Linked DNA regions of Homo sapiens. The protein of the gene in region 5 purifies or fractionates together with the protein of the main gene of each other region. This does not show direct contact. Each region holds a gene or a part of one and is shown on either strand. Other genes may lie near its edges.

Evidence for each region.
Region 1: the proteins of ODAD1 (region 5) and COG5 purify together in Homo sapiens (affinity purification with mass spectrometry; one large-scale study listed by BioGRID and IntAct). This does not show direct contact.
Region 2: the proteins of ODAD1 (region 5) and ODF2 purify together in Homo sapiens (affinity purification with mass spectrometry; one large-scale study listed by BioGRID and IntAct). This does not show direct contact.
Region 3: the proteins of ODAD1 (region 5) and VEZT purify together in Homo sapiens (affinity purification with mass spectrometry; one large-scale study listed by BioGRID and IntAct). This does not show direct contact.
Region 4: the proteins of ODAD1 (region 5) and SRGAP2 purify together in Homo sapiens (affinity purification with mass spectrometry; one large-scale study listed by BioGRID and IntAct). This does not show direct contact.
Region 6: the proteins of ODAD1 (region 5) and RGPD5 purify together in Homo sapiens (affinity purification with mass spectrometry, with the first as the bait; one large-scale study listed by BioGRID). This does not show direct contact.
Region 7: the proteins of ODAD1 (region 5) and TRPM4 purify together in Homo sapiens (affinity purification with mass spectrometry; one large-scale study listed by BioGRID and IntAct). This does not show direct contact.

The regions. Positions count from the first base shown.
Region 1 is NC_000007.14:107,231,921-107,235,420, reverse strand, and holds part of COG5 (conserved oligomeric Golgi complex subunit 5), read left to right. Parts: intron 1-1,208; exon of another isoform or gene 1,209-1,339; intron 1,340-3,500.
Region 2 is NC_000009.12:128,459,006-128,462,505, forward strand, and holds part of ODF2 (outer dense fiber protein 2), read left to right. Parts: intron 1-561; coding exon 562-652; intron 653-1,152; exon of another isoform or gene 1,153-1,294; intron 1,295-1,507; exon of another isoform or gene 1,508-1,544; coding exon 1,545-1,661; intron 1,662-1,936; coding exon 1,937-2,062; intron 2,063-3,500. UniProt on the Homo sapiens protein: Seems to be a major component of sperm tail outer dense fibers (ODF).
Region 3 is NC_000012.12:95,266,307-95,269,806, reverse strand, and holds part of VEZT (vezatin), read right to left. Parts: intron 3,451-3,500; coding exon 3,175-3,450; intron 1-3,174. UniProt on the Homo sapiens protein: Plays a pivotal role in the establishment of adherens junctions and their maintenance in adult life.
Region 4 is NC_000001.11:206,206,541-206,210,040, forward strand, and holds part of SRGAP2 (SLIT-ROBO Rho GTPase-activating protein 2), read left to right. Parts: intron 1-3,500. UniProt on the Homo sapiens protein: Postsynaptic RAC1 GTPase activating protein (GAP) that plays a key role in neuronal morphogenesis and migration mainly during development of the cerebral cortex. Regulates excitatory and inhibitory synapse maturation and density in cortical pyramidal neurons.
Region 5 is NC_000019.10:48,304,972-48,308,471, forward strand, and holds part of ODAD1 (outer dynein arm-docking complex subunit 1), read right to left. Parts: intron 1,353-3,500; coding exon 1,285-1,352; intron 1-1,284. UniProt on the Homo sapiens protein: Component of the outer dynein arm-docking complex (ODA-DC) that mediates outer dynein arms (ODA) binding onto the doublet microtubule. Involved in mediating assembly of both ODAs and their axonemal docking complex onto ciliary microtubules.
Region 6 is NC_000002.12:109,855,755-109,858,205, forward strand, and holds the end of RGPD5 (RANBP2-like and GRIP domain-containing protein 5/6), read left to right. Parts: intron 1-107; coding exon 108-142; 3' UTR 143-1,951; downstream 1,952-2,451.
Region 7 is NC_000019.10:49,209,792-49,212,336, reverse strand, and holds the end of TRPM4 (transient receptor potential cation channel subfamily M member 4), read right to left. Parts: intron 2,129-2,545; coding exon 1,932-2,128; intron 1,628-1,931; coding exon 1,495-1,627; intron 1,323-1,494; coding exon 1,250-1,322; intron 1,174-1,249; coding exon 1,068-1,173; intron 844-1,067; coding exon 839-843; 3' UTR 501-838; downstream 1-500. UniProt on the Homo sapiens protein: Calcium-activated selective cation channel that mediates membrane depolarization. While it is activated by increase in intracellular Ca(2+), it is impermeable to it.

The DNA.
Region 1 (3,500 bases), on a different chromosome or scaffold from region 5:
GTAAAATCATTTTTAAGCCTTTCAAAGCTGTTAGCTTTACTAGTCCAAATAGTTACTGAAATGAATTCTTCATAGCAATTTGCCAGATCCTCCCCACTTATAAAGATAAATGTTAATGTCAATATTTATTCTTGTGTGTATCCGGGAGTGTGTCTTGCTTCATTATTTCTACATGGAGGAAAGGACCTGGACAGACTGCTTGTATCAAGTCAGTGGTTGTCAGGTGCTCCCTCAGACTTGACACACTTTCAAAAAAGGAACAGGTAACACAAACCTAAACTTTCAAGAGCCTGTTTCATTGCAAATTGACTGATGCAGCAGTTAGTCATTTTCATCTCCAAATAATATTCCTGGGACCATTAGACCATAGAAATGAGCCTTCATTTGGAAAATATGCTTGTAGTAGCCACAGCATAAAAACAGAGATTAAACGTTACCATTAATATGGCTCTTTTTACCTTTTACATTTTATGAACTTCATTCTTAGGCACCTGTACATTTAACTTTGTTTTACAGGTACACTTGGCTTAAAGAAAGTTATTTGTAAATAGTGTCTTATTTGTCCCTTACTGGGGTTCCAGATTGCTTATTAAAAACCTGATGATGTACTAGAACCTCCTCTTATTTGTTTAAAAAAAAAAAGTGTGAACTATACTCAGATGGTCTCTGTTCTCCTCTTCCCCTTTCCTCCTTAATTTTGTTTTTCTTTTTGTTTCATCTTCTTTCCCTGGGCTCTCTCCCCTACCAGCTTATTTGCATTCTGCTCCAGCTGGTTCTTGAGTCACTTTCCTGGAGGCAGCACTTCAAGTCCAATTAGAGTGGCAGCCGAGCAGGAGATGGCCAAAACGAGAGTGCTGTAGGAGAGAGGCTTGTTTTTGTTTTTTATTTTAATATGTTCCCTTATGGGTCCTGAAAGATGGAAAGTATTGTCCTTTAACCCTTGCTACTGCCGCTAACACCTGCTCAAAATGCATAGCATCCAGAGGCAGGGGTGAGCTTCCACCTTTCAAAAAACTGCATTATTCAAAATGTTATTTGGCATCCTTTTTTCTTAAGACATGTTGTCTAATAAGCCAAACTTTTCTGGGTCCCTTCCCTTAAGGTAAATTAAACTCATCAGTCATTATTACTAACTTATGCTCAAAGGCCTCTTGTTTCCTGTTTTTTAAACATAGAAGAAGCATTTACACACACAGCATTTACTCACTGTTAAGCCCTGCAGTGACATTTGGTTGCAGCAGGCAGTGTGGTATTGAAAAGCAGATTCCTTTGTTCACCCCTGTACAGTGTGTCCCAGTTTCAAAACATCCTGACACTCACCTTGGGGATGGCTCCAGTCCTGTGGATCATGGGTACAGAAAAGACAGGCGGAGGCACTATCATAATTAATCATATCTGTGATCATTATCTTTGGCAAATATTGTTCTACTGTTATGTCATGGTCTCCCCCACCCACTTTTTAAATTAAAATTAAAATTTCAAGGTTTTATTTCGTTTGGTTTGGTTTCTTGCCACAATTGCAATTATTTGTTGTACCTCAGCTTTTAGCATCACATTTGGTTGAAAGTGTTTTTCGAGGGTCAGTCAAAACATTTAAATAGCATTACTCTAACATTTATATTCATGACAGGCATCAACTGGGGACTAGAGGGCTTTTCAACTGCCTTATTACTGAAAGTTCTATCAATTCATATTCAAAATTAAAGCCATTGAGGTCACTGAAATCAAAAATACACAAATACTCCATGGGTTTAAAAACTGTTCTTGTGATAAAAGTGCCTGCCATTCTAGCATAAATAACAAAAAGAGCTCAAGAAGGGACCTATAGACCAGGTTTGGGAATACTAGTTATTTGCCGTAAAGTCCAATTGCAAAGAGAGATAATGACGTATTTTCAGGATTTCTTTAAGAATCCTAACTTCTCCTCACTGGCACCAGTGCAGGAAAGAGAAAGTAGTTGCAGGGTGCCATCTGGAGGGATCATGGTGAGGGAAGTACCTGACATCCAGCCCCCTTAGGAATCCAGGTCATGGGCACGAGGTGGTTTCCTACAGGTAATTAATTCCCCACTGTGACCACATGGTCTCAGTGCCTACACTGATCACACAGCAGTTCTGAAATCACTAAGCCTGTCCACGACACTGGGGTTCTGCTGATTCTGAATCTCACTGGGATCTTGCCCACAGTGTCCTCTGAAGCACATACTCCCCCTCCACCCCTCAGTTTATTTTCTTAGCTGAAGGAAAGAGTGGCTATTGAAGTTGGTATTAAATTATTTAGTGGTACTTCTAGCAATTTCTATTTATAGGTCTTCTGGTGCCCTTTAAGCATACATTTATATCTATTTCACTTTGTGCCTAAAAATATTAATTTAGAAAAGAAAACAAGACAATCAAAATTCTAATTTTTGTTCTAATTCCTATTGCCTTTTCTTCTCCTGAACAATGTCAGGGCAGGAGTACCCTAGGAGTATCCAAAGAAGTCCTGTGGTTAACCAAATGTCTGTGGTAGGGAAGGAACAGCTATGTAATTAGTTCACCGTGCCTGCAGCTGACCGCTCATTCTCTCCAAACGGGGGCTGGAGAGAAGCAGTTGCACATGCCACTTTTGTATCCGCTGCTAATGGCAGAGTCACCTCCTCTTACCACAACACTCTTGCCCTTTAAAACATGGCCTTTATTGTTTAATGGAATTCTGGAAGAAGAAAATGATTTACAATATCCTAGAGGTCCTTTATGGATAAAAAAATTTTATTTTAAACATTAAACATTTTGAAATTGTCCTGCGGCATAGAAATCTTTTGCATAATCATACATTTTCCAGCCATTCGAGGTCATATTTTCTCATATCGTAACTTTTTCCTAGCCATTTATTTGTTTTAACATTTGGTCCTGCTCAAGTGCTAAGGCAAAGGTTGTCTTTGAAGACAGTGATTCCACTAGAGTAGTTGAGAAATTGACAAAAACACTTCGTGAAAAATATATAATTTCAGTATGTAAAAAACCATTATATAGAGAGAGGTATTTGAATGGAATTATATCAAAGATACAGTGATAATCACATTTTTCCTTTGTGCTCAGTGTAAAGTAAGTGACACATATGGAAAGAAAACAGAAATTCCTACCCAGTGAATAAATGAAACAGGTTCCAAAGAACAGCCTATCACCTACTGTCTTTTGAGTTGGGCACACTGGCTCACAGCTGTTCTGTTTTGCATTGTTGGCAAGAATCCTTTTTCTTCCTTACATTTTTATCTTTATATTTATTTATGATTCTTCATTTTATAGTTTCCCAGCCATATAAGGTTTCCTTCTAGGACATGCAGTATGCAATCCATGTCTTTAATATGTTATGAGAGAAATTAACCTGGTTACTGTTCATCCTCAAGACCATCCCAAGGAAGCTTCTCCAACTCTCTCGACACTGAGGTCATAAGTTTGACATAGCACTTATCATTTTGCTTAATAAGAATCATTATGTGTGTATGTATGTGTGTTTAT
Region 2 (3,500 bases), on a different chromosome or scaffold from region 5:
AGCTAATTTTTGTATGTTTTGTAGAGATGGGGTCTTGCCATGTTGCCCAGGCTGGTCTCAAACTCCTGGGCTCAAGCAATCTGCCTGCCTTGGCCTCCAAAAGTGCTGGGATTACAGGCATGAGACATGGCTTGTGGCCACTAATGCTCTATTTTTGTCACTCACTCACTGCATCTTTCTCCAGGGCCGCCTCTGCTCCAGGCACTGTCCTGGGTGCTTCTACCCTTGGCCAAACCAGCACATTGGCTTCTGTTCATGTGCTGCTTGCTTTTTGTCATCTGACAGGATGTCAGCTAGGCTTTTCAGCAAGGGTCATAATACATGTGATGTGACGATATGTTAAAAGTCCAGCCTGCAAATGCCTGTCACCCTATTTCCATCCCACTGCTGGGCACACCACGCACATCTGGTGCTCATCTCAGGGGAGTCAAGGAATTCCAGGCTGGTTTTCCTAGCCATGAACATGTTAGCTACCGTAGTCAGTGTGTAATTTCATGAGATCTGAAATATAAGATTGCCCTAGTTTTCTGCTTACAATCTGGTTCTTGTGCCTGGGTGCAGGTTTCCATCGTGTGGGAAGAACGGAGTAACGAGTCTCACGCAGAAAAAGGTCTTGAGAGCACCTTGTGGCGCACCCAGTGTAACTGTGACGGTAGGTGATGCACTCACGTAGCAGCCCTCTTTGGTCACCTTGCTAAAAATGCTTTTGCACACCGTTTCTAGGAGGTGCCTTACCCTGCTGGGCACCATCGCCGCCCAGTTGCTCTGCTAGGTGCTGTTATACATACTCTGCTGATTTTTAATTATGATCATCATTTTTGCCTGTGGTGAGGCTGCCGGGTGTGAGGAAATTGTCTTAGACTTATTCTTCCAGCCAAATCCTAAAATCTTGAGATTTTTAAAATAAAGGAAAAGAAAAAGAAGAGAAAAAAAAAGTTTAAAGAATGAGGGGAAGGATAAGAGCTGGTGGTGGTTGAGGGGTTTGTAGCTGTGGTTCTGCCTTGCTCATGTTTTCTTTAGAATCTAGACAGCCTTCTCATCCTTAGGATTTCCTTCAGCTTTCTGTTTTCCTGTTCTTTGATCTGCCTGCTCTCTGATTTATTCTGCACCCTGAGCATTTTGTGTGTTTCCCACGCCAATCTGCATGCCCAGTTGAGATCACTGTGTAGAAGGATCCGCCTGCTTTCCGCTGTGCTTCACTAAATCCAAGGAGGAGCTGTGCATTCCAGCAGGTTTAGAGGAGATCCAGCCCTAAGAACCCTGGGGCCGGCGTCTGGGATCTGTTCTGGAACGGGTGGGTCTTGCAGACCCTCTCTTGAGTGGACCAGAATCTCCCTTGTGGTCTTCTGCTGGGATCTCTGCAGGAGCCTGCTGAATGATACTCCCGCCTTACTCCCTGCCTGCATGCCAGTAGTTGGTAGCTGTCCTGCTCGCTTGGTGGCTAGGCTTTTTGGTGGCCCCCAGAGGCTGTGAGCTCTGTTTTTATGCCCAGTTTACTCATCCACAGATCAACCATTTTTGTGTTGTCCTCCCCCACCTGCCAGAAGCCAACCATGAAGGACCGCTCTTCAACTCCCCCCTTACATGTTCACGTGGATGAGAACACCCCTGTCCACGTCCACATAAAAAAACTCCCGAAACCATCAGCGACCAGCAGCCAGGTAGGAGCATGCCAGTGGGGCGAGGTAGTAGCTGTGGATCTGGGTGATCCTGCTAAGCCCAGCCTCCTCGCACTCTGACTCCAAAGGTTTGGGAGACAAACACACTCTTTCGGAGGCCGGTTTCCTGGTTAGAAGGTAGGCAGGCCTGTCATCCAGGAGCAACAGCAGTAACATTAGTCAGAAGAGGCACTCTGCTAGTCGGAGAGGGATGTCACTAGCGTGGCACCGTGGCCAGCTGGGTGTGGAAGTGACCCTGGGTTTGTCCCTTTCCACAGAAATCTCACAAGCGAGGAATGAAAGGGGACACTGTGAATGTGCGGCGGAGTGTCCGGGTGAAAACCAAGGTACCTTGGATGCCCCCTGGAAAATCATCTGCCCGGCCTGTGGGATGCAAGTGGGAGGTAGGCTCACCCTTGCCCAGGCTTTTCTTCTCGGACTGCTCAGATCCTAGCAGGCCTCAGCCTCGGTATGATTCAGGGTCAGCTATAGCTACTGGAATGTCCTAACAGACCCCATTTACTGAGGGCCTTGCTAAACCCTGAAACTATGTGAATCTTCTTGAGTTCTTATGATACTGCTGTGTGGGAAGTCCTGCTGTCCAAAGGCAGAGATGAGGAACCAGACCTCAGAGAGAAGTGATTTTCCCAGAGTCACAGAGAAGTTAGCAGAGCTGGAGTTAAGATTCATTCTAGAGGCAGTACTCTTAGCCTCTCTGCTTTGCTTGTGAGGAGCCACATCACATGTATTTTCTTTTCTTTTCTTTTCTTTTTGAGACAGAGCCTTGCTCTGTCGCCCAGGCTGGAGTGCAGTGGCATGATCTTGGCTCATTGCAACCTCTGCCTCCCAGGTTCAAGTGATTCTCCAGCCTCAGCCTCCCTAGTAGCTGGGACTACAGGCGCCCGCCACCACTTACGTCTGATTTTTAAATTTTTAGTAGAGATGGGGTTTCATCGTGTTGGCCAGGCTGGTCTCGAACTCCTGACCTCAGGTGATCCGCCCGCCTCGGCCTCCCAAGGTGTTGGGATTACAGGCGTGAGCCACCACAGCCAGCCTATTTTTCTTATAGTTTATTACATTAGAAATCTTTCATACCAGCAGTGAAAAGAAAAAAAAATAGAAATGAAAAACAAAAGTAACTCCTTGAAGTTTATAGTCATACCTCATAAAACTATGTCAAAACTGACTCCTTGATTTACCAGACAAAGGAGACTCCTTTCCCTTAGAGACAAAGGGAGTATGGGGCTTTCTTAGGATTAAATGGAAACTGCTCTGACCAGTACAATAAATTAAAAGGATTGAAATTAGACTGCTGCCTTACATTTTTTACTACATATACTTCACTAATAATCAGTGAAATGTAAATTAAAAGCCACAGTATATTTTTTTTAAAACAAAAACAATGAGCTTTTTTCTTGAATGGAAAAAGTTTAAAAAATGACAACTATCTCCTGCCAGCAAGCATATGGGATATCAATGAATCTTTTTTTTTTTTTTCCGAAATGGAGTTTCGCTCTTGTTGCCCTTGCCCAGGCTGGAGTGCAGTGGCGCGATCTTGGCTCACCACAACCTCCGCCTCCTGGGTCAAGCGATTCTCCTGCCTCAGCCTGCTGAGTAGCTAGGATTACAGGCATGCACCACCATCCCGGCTAGTTTTGTATTTTTAGTAGAGATAGGGTTTGTCCATGTTGGTCAGGCTGGTCTCGAACTCCCGACCTCAGGTGATCAGCCCACCTCAGCCTCCCAAAGTGCTGGGATTACAGGTGTGAGCCACCACACCCGGCCCGAATCTTTTAAAACGTTTTTTATAGGACTGTGAACCTGATTCAGCTGTTCTGGAGT
Region 3 (3,500 bases), on a different chromosome or scaffold from region 5:
GAGCAAAGGCTTCCTCTGATGTGGGGAAACAATGGATTCTGGCTGAGATATAACAGAAATGTAGAAATATTTATTAAGAATCCACATCTTTTTTACATAGACACTATGCTTGCTAACATATATTAGAGAAGAGCTACTTTATATTCAGTTTTCAAAACCTATATCCATAGGAAGTATGAAGACCTTAATTATAAACACTTTTAAATTCTTAATATACATTTACATACGTTCATCACATATGTTCACTGATCATATTTTGGTCACTTGTACAGAAAAAATACTGTATAGAAATACATTCTGTACATTCATAAAAGTAGGGTAAAATTACTTACCCACCTGCTGCCACTGGCACTTACCTACTCAAAATGAAGTAGGGGACGTGGAAAGATAACAGGACCAGTGGCCAACAGGGGAATACAAGTAGAAAGGCAAAGTAAGGGTTACTGCATAGTAGCATAGCTACTCTCAAAGCTGTTCAAGAGGAAGCACATTTCATGGCACTTCCCATAAGATTAATGGGGAGTACCTAATTTGTAACAATGACATACAATGTATTACATTTCATAACTTACAGTATATATGAGTAAATACCTGGTTATCAGATAAATTTTTTCACCTAACCAGTAATCTTTCCCAACAGTAAAACAAAATATTGGCATTTGTAAATTGCTTATACTATAACACAAAGCTATAAAACAACACACCTAACTCAAAACTTTAAAAATGTTAAACCATACTAAAATGTATTCAGGTATTAAAAATCTATAAAAACCAAATTTTAAAAAATCTATAAAAAGCAGAGGATGATGACTGACAGGCTTATGTTAAGACAAGGGAATGAAGGCAAAAAAGGTTTCAATTATTTGTGAGAGAGGACAATTTGAGTCAGAAACAAAACAGCATTCATGATTTCAATATATGGCACTACTGCTTGTGCTCCATTTTACTAAATCAGTTTTAAAAACTGTCTAATTTTGAAAATGTCTAAAAAATTATGATTCAAGACTTATTATTCATTTTTCAACCCATTATCCAGTTAGATAGAGACAAAGGAAGCACAATTTCTTCCAATACTTCTCTTCGTCTGTCATCTGAATGGGTAGAAGTCATAATCTGGAAGGTAAATCATGTCTAACTGGCCCACTTTACCTCTTCGTGCAAATTCCATGGGGACAGATAAAGTTGGAAAATGACACAAGGCACAGAATCCTCTATACACGCCTAACCATTAGTTGAACAAAGCCACTTTGTTCAACCAGTAAGTCCTCTCAATAAAATAAAAAGGAACTATTACTTTTTTTTTGTTTTTGAAACGGAGTCTCGCTCTGTCGTCCAGGCTGGAGTGCAGTAGCGCGATCTCGGCTCACTGCAAGCTCTGCCTCCCGGGTTCATGCCATTCTCCTGCCTCAGCCTCCCGGGTAGCTGGGTCTACAGGCACCCGCCACCACGCCCGGCTAATTTCTTTTTGTATTTTTAGTAGAGACGGGGTTTCACCGTGTTAGCCAGGATAGCTACGATCTCCTGACCTCGTGATCCGCCCGCCTCGGCCTCCCAAAGTGCTGGGATTACAGGTGTGGGCCACCGTGCCCGGCCGGAAATATTACTTATTTTAAGCATGATTTTTTTAAACTTTTAAAATTTGACACTTAAACAACTTAAAAACGTGCTATCCTTTAAGTCAATAAGAAGTAGACTTCAACTAATGCAACGACAAAAATCAACAGATGCTAAGAACTTTTATACTTTTTTTTTTGAGACCAAGTCTGTTGCCCAACCTAGACAGAATCTGTTGTCTCCAGTTCTGTTGCCCAAACTGGAGTGCAGTGGCACAATCTTGGCTCACTACAGCCTCAACCTCCTGGGGTTTAAGCAATCCTCACACCTCAGCCTCCCGAGTAGCTGGGACTACAGGTGTGTGCCACCACGTCTGGCTAATTTTTTATTATTTGTAGAGATGGGGTTTTGCTAGATTGCCTAGGCTAGTCTTGAACTCCTGGGCTCAAGTGATCCTCATGCCTCGACCTCCCAAAGTGCTGGGATTACGGGTGTGAGCCATTGTGCCTGGCTGACTTTTATACTTTGATTGAGAAGAAAGAGAAATTATAAAATCCATCTTATGTCTTGGGATTGTGTGTAGAACACAAGAGAGTAAAGAACAAGATAACTACTGGGATTCTTCCATTTCTCTATTCCATGATTTTTTAGAAACAGTGTTTATCTCAAGATTGTGTAATGTTCTAGAGCAGAACAGAGTGAAGGATGCGATGGCTACCAGAGGTTCTTCACTCCCTCTTTTCATGATTTTCTAGATACGACTAATTAAGAGCTATGAATGTTCTTCACCATATGCTTACTTTCCCCCACCTATAGATTGCAAAAGTTATATAGGTTATATAAATTATTAAATATACTAGCACACAACTGTCATCTGTTAGTGTTTGGCAGGTGTCCAGTGTACTGCAAGCCGGGTTTAGAATCAGATGGAATGGATATGAATATTTACCATTTATAATTCTATGCCTTTAGTTGTATGCAAAAGTGACTAGCATAGTATATGGAATATAGTTGGTGCTCAATAAATGTAACTTTCCCTTTAATAATAGATTAAGTAGTCAATATATCCTACAGCTTAATATACTTACAGCTAGACTGGTGAATATTTAATTTCCTGTAAGAATGGAAAACATCACTATTTGCATGATATTCTGAGAGTATCAGTGCTATAATATCTGCTAATATTTACCTGAACAGTTATTAGTACATGTCAAGAGTTTTCAAAATGCATTTATAGCAGATACGTCTATCATAAAGAAGGCATTTGAAAGGGAGTAATGGGAGCAAGCATTTACTGGGTAACTACTGCACGTTAGGTTCAGTATCAGACACTCTCTATATATTATCTCATATAATCACATGGTAACATACAGAAATAATCATGATCTCCAAAGTACTTTAGTTCCTCAAAGCAGATAGGCAGAATCATACTACATATTAAATCTAGCACATAATGTATTTATTCCTTCACTTAGCAGTTAATTGACTTTAGTAAGTACTAAAGAGAAAAGCACTTTTTTTTCCTATAAATGCAACATAGAAATGAAAATAGGTAATAAATATTCTCCTTTATGGAATAGAAAATAATCATTTAAGAAATAAAATAAAAAATGAACTCACAGTGTAAATCCTCTGGAAATCACTTCGGTTTCTTGAATGAGACGTAAAGCTTTTCTCACGAGGTTAGTAAAAGCTCGGCTGTTTGTGGCCATATCTTCCAAATGAACGCTGTATTTTTTTAGGGTCACTTGTAGTTTGGCTGTCCTCCATAATCTCAAAGCTCTTATGACCAGATACACAAATAGAATCACTCCCCATACCAGCCAGGAAGACACAATCCACCAAGTGGGAAGCATAACGAGCAAGCTAATGAAGGCAAATAGCATTGAGAGATCCCTGGGAACAAGAAAGGAAGAAAATGATATGCATCAGATTAGAGAAAGAAA
Region 4 (3,500 bases), on a different chromosome or scaffold from region 5:
GCATTGGCACCAAAAGTCCATTGCCACCTTGGGTGTACCTTGTACCTGCCTGGTCTCTGGTCGGCCTGCATACAATCAGAGATCAGAGAATAAGGCCACCCACGCCCGGTCTCCGCCCTCACCTAAATCTGAATAGAGTTGGGAGGATGTTAGGGTAGCCGGTTGGTGCTGATTCTGGAAAATGGGAAGACATAATTGTTTAACCCTTCTGTGCTGTGGCCCTCTGCTCCGGAAGACATGCTTTTAAAGCCCCATTTCCCTCTCCTGAAAAATGTGAAGGGTAAAGCAAAATGTGGACTAGGAGAAACCAAGTGACCTGTCTTCTCATCTAGTCGACTGACTTGACTCATGAATAAGAGCCCTTACTCAGATAGCGTTTTTTAAACCAGCAGTTCCCATAGGAAGGGTTCCTGCCTGTTAAAGAGCTGCAGCATGTGTTTGTGCAAGGCACTGTCCCTTCCTGGTCAGTCACTGGAAAGAGCCATGTGGCTCCAGCCCATTGAGACCTTAGCTGGGGAGTGGAAGAGGTGGGTGGCCTTGAATGTTACACCACATGGTTGGAGCTCTGGGTTTTCCTTTGTTTCAGAGTACAGAGGGAGGGGCCCCTCCTTTCCCTGCACCAGTGCAAGGAGACCTTTTCCTATCAGAGAGGACTTGGGAAGGGCCATGGCTCCCCTCTAATGATTGCTGGGGGGTGGGGGTAGGTGTAGAGTTTGAAATGGGCAGCTCCCTTATCTCTTGGAAGGTTGGAAGGTAGTCTGAAGTCCTCATTGTACCTACAGGATCTTTTTTATGTCATTAGTTTGGTCAGTGCTGGAGGTGCCCTAAGGGGCCTTCTATCCACTTGGCTGCAAATATTGGTAGGTTTATTACAGAGATGGGGGAGTTGACTGATTGATAGCTTCAGTTGAACTGGGATTGAGAGAGGTGTGGTTGTGAGTTATTATTGAGGTCTTGGCCTCTTGTCACTGTTCATAATCCAGGCTTGTTTTTGTAAACAATAGGCCACTGGCCTCCATGTCCTGTCCAGATGCATTGCATTTGCTCTTGGAATCCCCCCTGCAGTTTTAACCAGATATGTCTTTTTTTTTTTTTTTTTTTAACACATCCTATTCTTAAACTGTTGCCATCGGGAGTGTTAATAACTTTGATCTTCCCAGATTTCTCTCCAGAAGCACGCCATTTGACTAAGGTGCAAAGTGACTTTAAATGTTTAATTTTTGGAAGGTTCAAGGCTGATAGGTGTTAATAGAACCATATCTGCCAATTTCTTATTGGCAAAGGATTTCTCAAGAGTGTCTCAAAATTAAACACTTTGGATATTTACAAACATTGCTCATTGAGATGATGTAATGCAGTCGGCTATTTGGGTTCTCTCTTCAACCTTGCCACAAACAGACTATTTTGCTTTGCTCTGATATTTTCCCATTGATACTATTCAGGATCATAGAATTTTATAGGTGGCTGAGCATGATGTCTTACTCCGAGAAGGTGCCTGATGAATGCTTATGGAACTGATTTGAATAGTTTAGTCCTTCATTTTACAGCTGAGGAGAATACAGAGAACTGAAGAGGCTTGTCCAAGGTCACACGGCTAGATGGTGGCAGATCTGAAACTAGAAGCAGATTTACCAACTCTCAATTCTCTATTCTGTATCTTTACTATGAAACATCATCTGACCAGGGTGGAAAAAAATAAAAAATTCTTAAGGAGCCCAAATCTGTCAATGAATAATAATAGTAATAATGATAATGATAATAGATTACATTTTGGTTGCTCATTATGTTCCAGTCCATCCCAAGTGCTTTAAATGAATGGTCTGGTTTAATCCTTACCTCAACCCAGGAAATGGGTATTATTGTCACCTTCCATTCACCATATAAGGAAACTGAGGCTTAGAGAGGATGAGAAGCCCTTCCAAGGTCACACAGCCAAACCATGGCAGCTTGACTTCATTCCTTTATTCATTAACTATTTATTGAGTGCTTGCTGTGTGTTCTGGTGATTGGCCATACAGCTGTGAAGAAGAAAAAGTCTCTACCCTCATGGAGCTTATATTCTGGAAGCTGGGCTCTCTATGGAACAGCACAGAATTTGGAGACAAAGGGCCTGCGATCTGGTTTGGCTCTGCCCCCGACTAGCTAGAAGCCCTGGGTCAGAATTATTATGAGTGTCAGCTTTTTGTGTGTTATATGGGACTCATGGTGCTGCCAGACTTACTTCTCTTACAGATGCCAAGATAAAAAGAAAATTGCTGTAACAGCTATGCAGTTTGGTTTGGTTGTTAAGTGCAATTTTTAGAGTCAAAGTGATTCAGGTTTAAATCTTGGTTCTGACAGTAGCTAGCCTTTCACTTCAGGCAAGTTACATGACTTGTCTGAGCCTCAGTTTCCTTATTTGGAAAATAGGTAAAATAAAATACATTTCCTAAGATAGTAGTGAGTTGTTGATGAGATATATAAATTATTTAGAACAGTATCTTGCACTTGTAAGTGCTCAATAATGGTACGGTCTACTTCTCTGTGAGCCTTTCTTTTGCTGAATTGGGCTGACTATTGAGGCTGCATTGCATATTCACTCCCAAAGTGCCAGCTATTAAATGATAGGAAATAAGTAAGGAATGAAACTTAAGTTCTAGCTTAAGATCATTTAGTTGTAACAAAACATCTTGGGTCAGTCACTTAAACCCTCTGGACATCAGTTTCTTTTTCTGTCAGTGAACAAGTAAACTAATTATTGGCCACTGTGGTTCGGCCTGTCTTTGACCAGAGTCCCAGGTCCTGTTTTTTCAATCAGAATTGTTTGAGTCAAATGGACTCTAAATGGGACCCTCATCTCATGGGACTTTCTGGGACCCTCCCTATCCCTTGATTTTTGCCTCCCTATAAACCACCTGCTTGCATGTGCCCTGAGGAACTCCTGAGGCTTCAGCCCCAACCCTACCCCAGAGTGGTTTTATGAGGGGTGTGCCTCCTTAGTCAGCCTGCCTTGTAGTGTCTTCTTAAAAACCATCATTGTTTCTGGTTTGTGGGTGCCCAGATTCCTTGGAAAGTTCATGCCTCTCAATGTCTGACTTGAAAGCAATAATATTCTTAGTCTTTTTACATAGCTCTTTCCAATTTACATTATGCTTTCATATGTAGTTGTCCGTCAGTATCCTCAGGGGATTGGTTCAAGGACTACCCCCACTTCCCCCAGGATACCAAAATCTGCAGATGCTCAAGTCCCTGATAACTAATGGTGTGGTATTTGCGTATAACCTATGTACACACGTCCTTCTGTATACTTTAAATCATCTCTAGATTACTTATAATACCTAATACAGTGTAAATGCTATGTAAATAGTTATACTGCTTTTAAAATTTGTATTATTTTAAATTGTTGTATTGGTATTTTTATTGTTTTTTTTTTTTTCTTGAATATTTTCCATTCCCATTTGGTTGAATCTGCAGATATGGAACCTGCAGGTATGGGGAGGGCTGATGTACATTAATCTCTG
Region 5 (3,500 bases):
GCTGCTACATTCTACGCTTTAAAATGGTGAATTTTGCCACGTTTGTTTTAACAGAGAGAGAGAAAGAGAGAAATCACAGAGACCCTAAGGCCGACCCAGGCCACAGCTGATGTCGATCAGGGACCATGAGAAAACAGAAGCCAGAGAAGAACTTAGTAGAAGGTAAGAAAGCATTTGGAGCAAAAGAAGAGGGCGAAGCTGAGAAAGAGACAGGGATGGAGTGAGAGAGAGAGCATGGAGCTCATGAGAGCCCCAGAGAGGGAGAGAGAAGCCAACACCTAAAGCAGCTTCAGCTCCTCAACTCCTTACAGTGTGCCTCTATCTGAAGGTGGCCCGAGAGGATCTCTGTCCCTTGCAACCAATGCTGACGAATAACAAATTCGCCAGATGCTTCCAGGAACCCTGCTGCACTATATATGTGCTAGATGCGCTTTTTTTTTTTTTTTCTCCTGAGACGGAGTCTCACTCTGTTGCCCAGGCTGGAATGCAGTGGTGCAATCTCGGCTCACTGCAACCTCCGCCCCCAGGGCTCAAGCAATCCTCCCACCTCAGCCTCCCAAGTAGCTGGGACCACAGACACCCGCCACCATGCCCAGCTAAGTTTTTATATTTTTGGTAGAGATGGGATTTCACCATGTTGGCCAGGCTGGTCTCGAACTCCTGAGCTCAAGCAATCTGCCTGCCTTGGCCTCCCAAAGTGTTGGGATTACAGGCGTGAGCCACCTCGCCCAGCCAGTAGATACATTCTTATGTGCTAGATGGGGTCAGTAGAGGTTAATTTACATGCCCAAGAAAAAGAACAGGGCCGGTGGGGTGCAATGGCTCATGCCTGTAATCCCAGCACTTTGGGAGGCAGAGGCGGGTAGATCATGAGCTCAGGAGTTCAAGACCAGCCTGGTCAAGATGGTGAAACCCCATCTCTACTAAAAATACAAAAATTAGCCAGCCACGGTGCCGGGCACCTGTAATCCCAGCTACTCGGGAGGCTGAGGCAGGAGAATTGTTTGAACCTGGGAGGTAGAGGTTGCAGTGAGCCAAGATAGCGCAACTGCACTGTAGCCTGGGCGACAGAGCCAGACTCTGTCTCAAAAAAAAAGACAGAACAGGACCTTGCCAGTGGAGGTGGGGAACTGGTGGCGGGGAGAGAGAAAAAGGGGATATTATGGGAGAAAAAATAGGTTCTGACGTGTTTCATGAGTCCTGAACCTTCCCATCACTGCCTTATGGAAAGGTGCGTCCTGAGTCATCTGGGTCCCGCCATCCCAGGATACCCGCAGTCTCTACCTGACGGCGTAGGCAGAGGTGGAGGAGAGGATAAGGGTGCTGACCAGGTGATGCAGGTGGTGGATCTCCTGTGGGGGGAGGAGAAAAAAATCAGTGCCACTTCTTACAACCCCATTGCTCGAAGTCTTTCCTTTTGGCCCCGTGCTTCTCCAATAAGGAGTAAAGCTCTTGAGCCTTCCAAATGTGGACCCTCCTCATTAGCGACTGCCCATGAAAGGGATTTTAAAGAGGTGTGAAGTCAAATTGATAAGCTGGATCAAAAGGCTCTTTCTGTAGATAAGCAGAAACTAAGAAAATATTTAGTAACCTACGGGGACTGGGTGGAAATGAGGTGGAGGAGATGGAGAGGAAATGACGTTTCCCTAGGAGACCTTTTGGAATAGTTTGATTTGAGAACCTTGTTAATGTTTTACATATTCATAAAGGAAATTAAATCAATAAAGAGAGGAGAGAAAACTAAAACTGAATGCAAATGGAAGCAAGTGAACTTTATTTAAAAATAATAATAGGGCCAGGTGCGGTGGCTCAGGCCCATAATCCCAGCAGTTTGGGAGGACGAGGCGGGCAGATCACCTGAGCTTGGGAGTTCGAGACCAGCCTGGCCAACATAGAGAAACTCCATCTCTATTAAAAATACAAAATTAGGGCCAGGCGCGGTGGCTCACGACTGTAATCCCAGCACTTTGGGAGGCCAAGACGGGAGGATCACCTGAGGTCGGGAGTTTGAGACCAGCCTGACCAACATGGAGAAACCCTGTCTCTACTAAAAATACAAAAAATTAACCAGGCGTGGTGGTGCATGCCTGTAATCCCAGCTACTTGGGACAATGAGGCAGAAGAATAGCTTGAATCCGGGAGGCGGAGGTTGTGGTGAGCCGAGATCGTGCCATTGCACCCTAGCCTGGGCAACAAGAGTGAGACTCCATCTCAAAAGAAAAAAAAAAAGAAAGAAAGAAAGAAAGAAAGATGAAATGAGGAATGCTCAGGAAAAAGCTGGTGATATTGGAATGGAATCAGAGGTATCAATGTGAACTCACTATTGTAAAATATGTCAGCCAGGCGCAGTGGCTCATGCCTGTAATCCCAATACTTTGTGAGGCCAAGGCAGGAGAATCACCTGAGCCCAAGAGTTTGAGAGCAGCCTGGACAACATAGTAAGACCCCATCTCTACAAAACATAAATAGAATTTTAAAACATATAAAATATGTGTGCTTCCTAGCTCTCTCCAGAGGAAGGGCCTCAAAGCAATGACACCCAAGTAGCAACAGAGTCTCTTAGTGCCAGGCTGGTGGTTCACGCCTGTAATCCCAGCACTGTGGGAGGCCGAGGTGGGCGGATCACGAGGTCAGGAGATCGAGACCATCCTGGCTAACACGGCAAAACCCCGTCTCTACTAAAAATACAAAAAATTAGCCGGGCGTGGTGGCAGGTGCCTGTAGTCCCAGCTACTCGGGAGGCTGAGGCAGGAGAACGGCGTGAACCTGGGAGGCGGAGCTTGCAGTGAGCCGAGATCATGCCACTGCACTCCAGCACTTTAGCCTGGGTGACAAAGCGAGACTCCGTCTCAAAAAAAAAAAAAAAAAGAAAACGGTCTCTTAGTGCCTCAACACCTACTCTTCCCTAGAAAGAACCGGGACTCCTCAGAAAAATGGCCAACCCCAGGGATGGGGCAGAACAAGGTCCAGATTACCCAGACTATCTTCGTGTGCCAGAAAGTGAGGAAGTACTCCCAAAAAGTGATGGGGTATGTCCAAAGGCCACAGAAGCCAGCTTGAAGGGGCTCCCACTAACCAAATCTGGGGCAATTTGAATATTAAAATGAATGGCAGTTACGGATCATCATCTATAAAGTCAGAATACACTAATGCTCACTGACAACACTCAAATATACAGGGGGAGAAAGAGAAGTGTTTCCTTTTTGCTTTTTTTTTTTTTGAGACAGAGTTTCACTCTTGTTGCCCAGGCTGGAGTGCAATGGCACAATCTTGGCTCACTGCAGCCTCCAGCTCCCTGGTTCAAGTGATTCTCCTGCCTCAGCCTCCCAAGTAGCTGGGATTACAGGCGTGCACCACCACACCTGGCTAATTTTTTGTATTTTTAGTAGAAACGGGGTTTCACCATGTTAGCCAGGCTGGTCTCGAACTCCTGACCTCAGGTGATCCGCCTGCCTCAGCCTCCCAAAGTGCTGGAATTACAGGCATGAGCCACCACACCC
Region 6 (2,451 bases), on a different chromosome or scaffold from region 5:
GACATTATTTGCTTATATTGTAGAGTGGTTCTAAAATATAGATTTTACATTGAGAAATTTTAATACTCTCTTTTTTCTTTTTTTTTTCTTTGTTTTACTTTCTAAAGATGAGGAAGAAAATGCTTCCCGTTCTTCTGGATGAGCATCCTATCTTCGTAGTTGGTTTGGACTTCGATAGGTTGATGGAAGGAATACTTCTATTAACCAAATAGAATCTGTTTACAAAAATGGTTCGTGTGTGTTACCATTATTCTTTTGTCAAAAAGTGTGTATATATGTTTGCATTTACATATATTTGTACATCTGTATGACAGATGTATTTTAAAAGTTTCAACTTGAAGTAAAAGTACAACAGCTTGAAGTGTTGATACCAGGCCACAGCCCTCTAACTCATGTGATCTCCCATGCATGCTGCCAGAATAAAACCACCAGGAATGAATTCACTCCCCACTTCTCTGGAACCTCAGGACCCGCCCATTTCTCGGCAGTACTGTGAATTTTGAAGTTAAACTAAATTTTGGTACCATACCAACTGGAATTTAGGCTTTAAAAATAATGTTTCAAGGCCAGGTGTGGTGATTCATGCCTGAAATCCCACTACTTTGGGAGGCTGAGGCTGGAGAATCGCTTGAGGCTAGTGAGCTGTGATTGTACCACTGCACTCCAGCTCGGGGAACAGAGCGAGACCTTGTCTCTAAAAATAATAATAGTAATAAAAATAACGTTTTATGACTATTTATTGCAAGGTCAGATTTACAGATTGTTATAAATTGTTGAGAAATTTTTGTGATTAGAATATGAAGGAAAAAGCTTTGTTGGTAAAAGTGACATGTTAAGGGGCTATGAAGTAAATATGCTGCAGTTAATTGTGCTAAGTTAAAATACAGTTTAGTTATTTGCTTTAAAATAAACTCTTCTTTTTTTCTTTAAAGTATACTACCTCAAAACTCATTATGTTGTCAGAGCCCTAGAGCTGGCTAGTGTAACACTGACTATGAGTAGGTGGGCCCACCACTTGAGTTGAGGTGATTTCATGGTGTCTTTCCAGGCTCTTGATAGGGTGTCACTGCATGCAAGCCATGAATCTGTTTTGAGAATCCTCTCCATTTTCCCAAATAAAAACCTATCCCAACAGTGACTATATCACTCAGCATTGGATCTAAATATAAAAGTGGTGCTTTCAGTGTTTTTGGCAGATAGTGTTCCATAACCTTTCCATCAGAAGGGATTTTAGACACCTTAGAGGTCCGTGCTACATCTTCACAGTTCCTCCGAATAACCTTAGGTGGTAGTGTTACTTGCCTTTGACACCTGTGCATATGTTTTAATGACTAGATCCAAACTGTGTTGTTCTTAAATCAAAAATTGGATAATTTTTAATATTTATGTATTAATCACACAGTGTGCTCTCTGAAGTTCTCTTAAGCCTTCAGTTTATACTCTTAATTTTCTTTCTGAGCTGGGGAACTGACTTTGCACTTTGGTTACACAGAACATTGGTTTCCAATTTAGTTTAACTGAAATTTGCTGCTGATATGTTGAGTTTGTTCTTTAAAAAATATCTCATATATCTCGTCTTTCCTCCTTAGAAGAACAGACCTAACTAGCGAATGTATGAATGAAAATGCATCTATTTCAGAGCCGACATGAAGAGTTTAGTTTTTTTACTTTATAAACTGTGAATATGAGTATGCCAGCTGCATTAGATGTAACTAATCATATTTAAATATATTTCACTTTGACTTTAGACCTTTTGAAGTCTGTATAAACTTGTTTTGAAATACAGTCTCCACTTACGAATGTCATAACAAAATACTTTTTTGCATGATAAAAAATTACTTTGATTACAAAAGGCATATTCTTTCATGGTTTCTGCAATGAGAGGAAGTGTAATGATTATTTTAATATTTCTATTAAAACTGTATATTTTTATGGCTGCTCTTTTATGTTACCCACTGTCTCTTTGGGGTTGTTAATTGGTTTCTGAAAGGGAACTTCAAACTCCTTTACTACTGGCCTTCCATGGTTGGTCCCTATTAGGTTGTTGTGAGAACGTCGACCAACTCTTTGATACCCGCCAGGTAGACCGTAGTACCTGCCATGTCTGACACCCTGCATCCAGCTAAAACCAGAAACAGCGCTGGGCCTCCCTGTGGACAAGACATTGATTTGACCAGAAGCAGATGTCTGGCTAAGGCTGCCAACCAAAGGGTGGCCTTAGATGAAGGGCTTTGTTCAGTTAGGGGCAGAGGTCATTAATTTTTTTTTTTTTTTTTGAGACAGAGTCTTGCTCTGTCGCCCAGGCGTGAGTGCAATGGCGCGATCTCGGCTCACTGCAAGCTCTGCCTCCCAGGTTCACGCCATTCTCCTGCCTCAGCCTCCTAAGTAGCTGGGACTACAGGCGCCGGCCACCATGCCCGGCTAATTTTTTGTATTTTTACTAGAGACAGG
Region 7 (2,545 bases), 900 kb from region 5:
TTACCAGTTTAGCTTGTTATGGGTTATTTAGTTAAGCTGCATGTATAATCACACATATTTGCCTCAACCCTGTGTGCGCCTGGCCTGCAATTTCCCACTAATTAGACTTTTTAAAGACACGTATGCATTTATCTACTCAAATTTGCATCATCCGTTTCCCTATTGCCAAAGCAGATGTACACAACACCCACCCACCTCCATTCCAGGAAATAATTTGCTTATTATCACTGAGTTATTTTTCCACTGGAAAGTTGAAACTGGGTGGGAGGGGGTACAGATGGGGTCTTGTCCTACTGAAGCGAGAGCCGTCAGAACAGTGCAGACAGAAGTGCTGGGTCTCCGGCAAGAACAATGGGGCTCAAGGGAGGAAACGGACTCCAAAATATCTGAATTACAGCAGCAAATCCACCAAGAACCCCAAACCCAACACCCCAGCTCCAGCTCCCATCCTGGATCTAGACACCCACCAGCTCCCCCAGGAATCAAGCCTCCGGACACGATTCCTCTGAAATGGCTTTATTTCCCCAGTGTGAGGAATCTGTGAGTGGTGAGGGGTCTGTGGTCCCTGTTACCCCAAGGACCCTGCAGCCTCCAGATGGATAACGGCCCGGGATCCAGGCCTTGATCCTCCCAGGCTGGGACTGGTTCTGGGAGGAGCCGGGCATGCTGTGGTTTGTAAGGATGACACTCCCAAAGGTGGTCCTGACAGTGGCCCAGATGGACATGGGGCTCACCTCAAGGACAAGGCCACCAGGTGCGGGGGCCGAGGCCCAGATGAGCCTTACTCTAGGAGCAAAATCCCCTGTGGGGGCTTCTCCTTGAAGTCCGCCAGCAGGGCTCAGTCTGGGGGAAGAGAGAAAAGAGAGAGCAGGTGATTGGCAGGGAAGGGGAGAGACAGAAAAACTGGGAGACTGGCAAAAAAGAAGAAAGACGAAGGCGAGAGTACAAAAGGCTCAAAGGAGACCAAGAGAGTGACCCAGGGACACTGGAAAGGTGCCGAGAGAGAAAAACACGCAAAAATACAGGAACAGAGGCTGGAGATGCACAGGCTGATGCTACACACTGACCTTTGGACCCAGGCAGGTCAGGGGGTGGCGGCCCACCTGGGGGCAGCAAGGCAGAGCGGCTCAGGGCCTCGGCCACCCACCCCAGGACGCGGCTACACTGCTGGACCTGCGGAATGGGAGGAATGTCAGAGCGGGAGATGGGACCCCTGCCACAGTCCCCCAGCCAGGCCCCAAGGCCTCACCTCCCGCTCCAGCACTTTCAGGCGCTGTTCGTACTCGCGGATGTGTCCCAGCTGTTTCAGTGCCAAGTCCACCCTGAGAAGGGAGGGCCTCTTACCGGGGGCACCCGCAGCCCACCCACCCCCAGGGCTCTGCCTGCTTCCCGGGCCTCCTCCCTCTCTCCCTCCCTCCCAGGACCCTGCCTTCAGCTGAAGTCAGGATCCGCCCCAGGCCAGAAGCCCCATCCCCGACCAGGCCCCGCTCTCACTTCTGGGACGTGCGCTTCAGACGCTCGGAGTCGCTCTCCCGCTTGTCCCTAGCGCGTGCCAGCAGAAAGTTCTCCTTATGCACCGATTCCCACGTTAGCAGCTTCCGCTCGGCTTCCTTAGAAAGGTAAACCCCTGCAGGGGCGGGCGGAGTCAAAGGGCTCAGGCCACGCCCCTTCCCAATCCCAGCTGCCCCTTCCGACACCCTCAGAACACGCACGCTATCCCAGACCCAGCCCCTGGTGATTCGAGAACATGCCCCGCCCCTCACCCGTAAGCACTGCCCCTCAGTGCTTAAGCTCCGCCCCTTGTTGCTTAAACCCCGCCCCTCGCTACCTAAGCCACGCCCGTTAGTCATTTGGGGCATGCCCCCTTCCCCTCGCCTTCCAGGCTCCCGGTCCCCTATATTTCTCCTTTTTAAGCCAAGCTCTGTTCTTACGGAAATGCTCGAGGGCCGGGGAGGACGGCTGGGGGCTCCGGGGTCGCCTGCACAATTGCCTGAGCAGGAGGCGCAAGTGGGAGATGACGATAAAGGGCGGGGCCAGCGCGGGCCGAGAGTGGAATTCCCGGATGAGGCGGTAACGCTGCGCCTTCCAGTAGAGATCGCTGTTGCCCTGTACTTTGCCGAATGTGTAACTGCAAAGGCCAGAGGTCAAAGGTCACTTGAGGTCAGGGCCCAGCCAGGGGCAAGGACGAAGGTTAGATGCCAGGCAATAATTGTTCAGTCTATAGCAGCAGACAGAAGTCAAGATCACTAAAGTCAGAGGTTACAGGATGCGATTAGAAGTCAGGTTAGAGCCAAGGGCGTTTGGTCACGCCTGTAGTCCCAGCACTTTGGGAGGCCGGAGTGGGCGGATCACCTCAGGTCAGGAGTTCGAGACCAGCCTGGCTAACATGGTGAAGCCCCATCTCTACTAAAAATACAAAAATTAGCCAGGCGTGGTGGTGGGCACCTGTAATCCCAGCTACTGGGGAGGCTGAGGCAGGAGAATCGCTTGAACCCAGGAGGTGGAGGTTGCAGTGAGCTGAGATCGTGCCACTGCACTCCAGCCT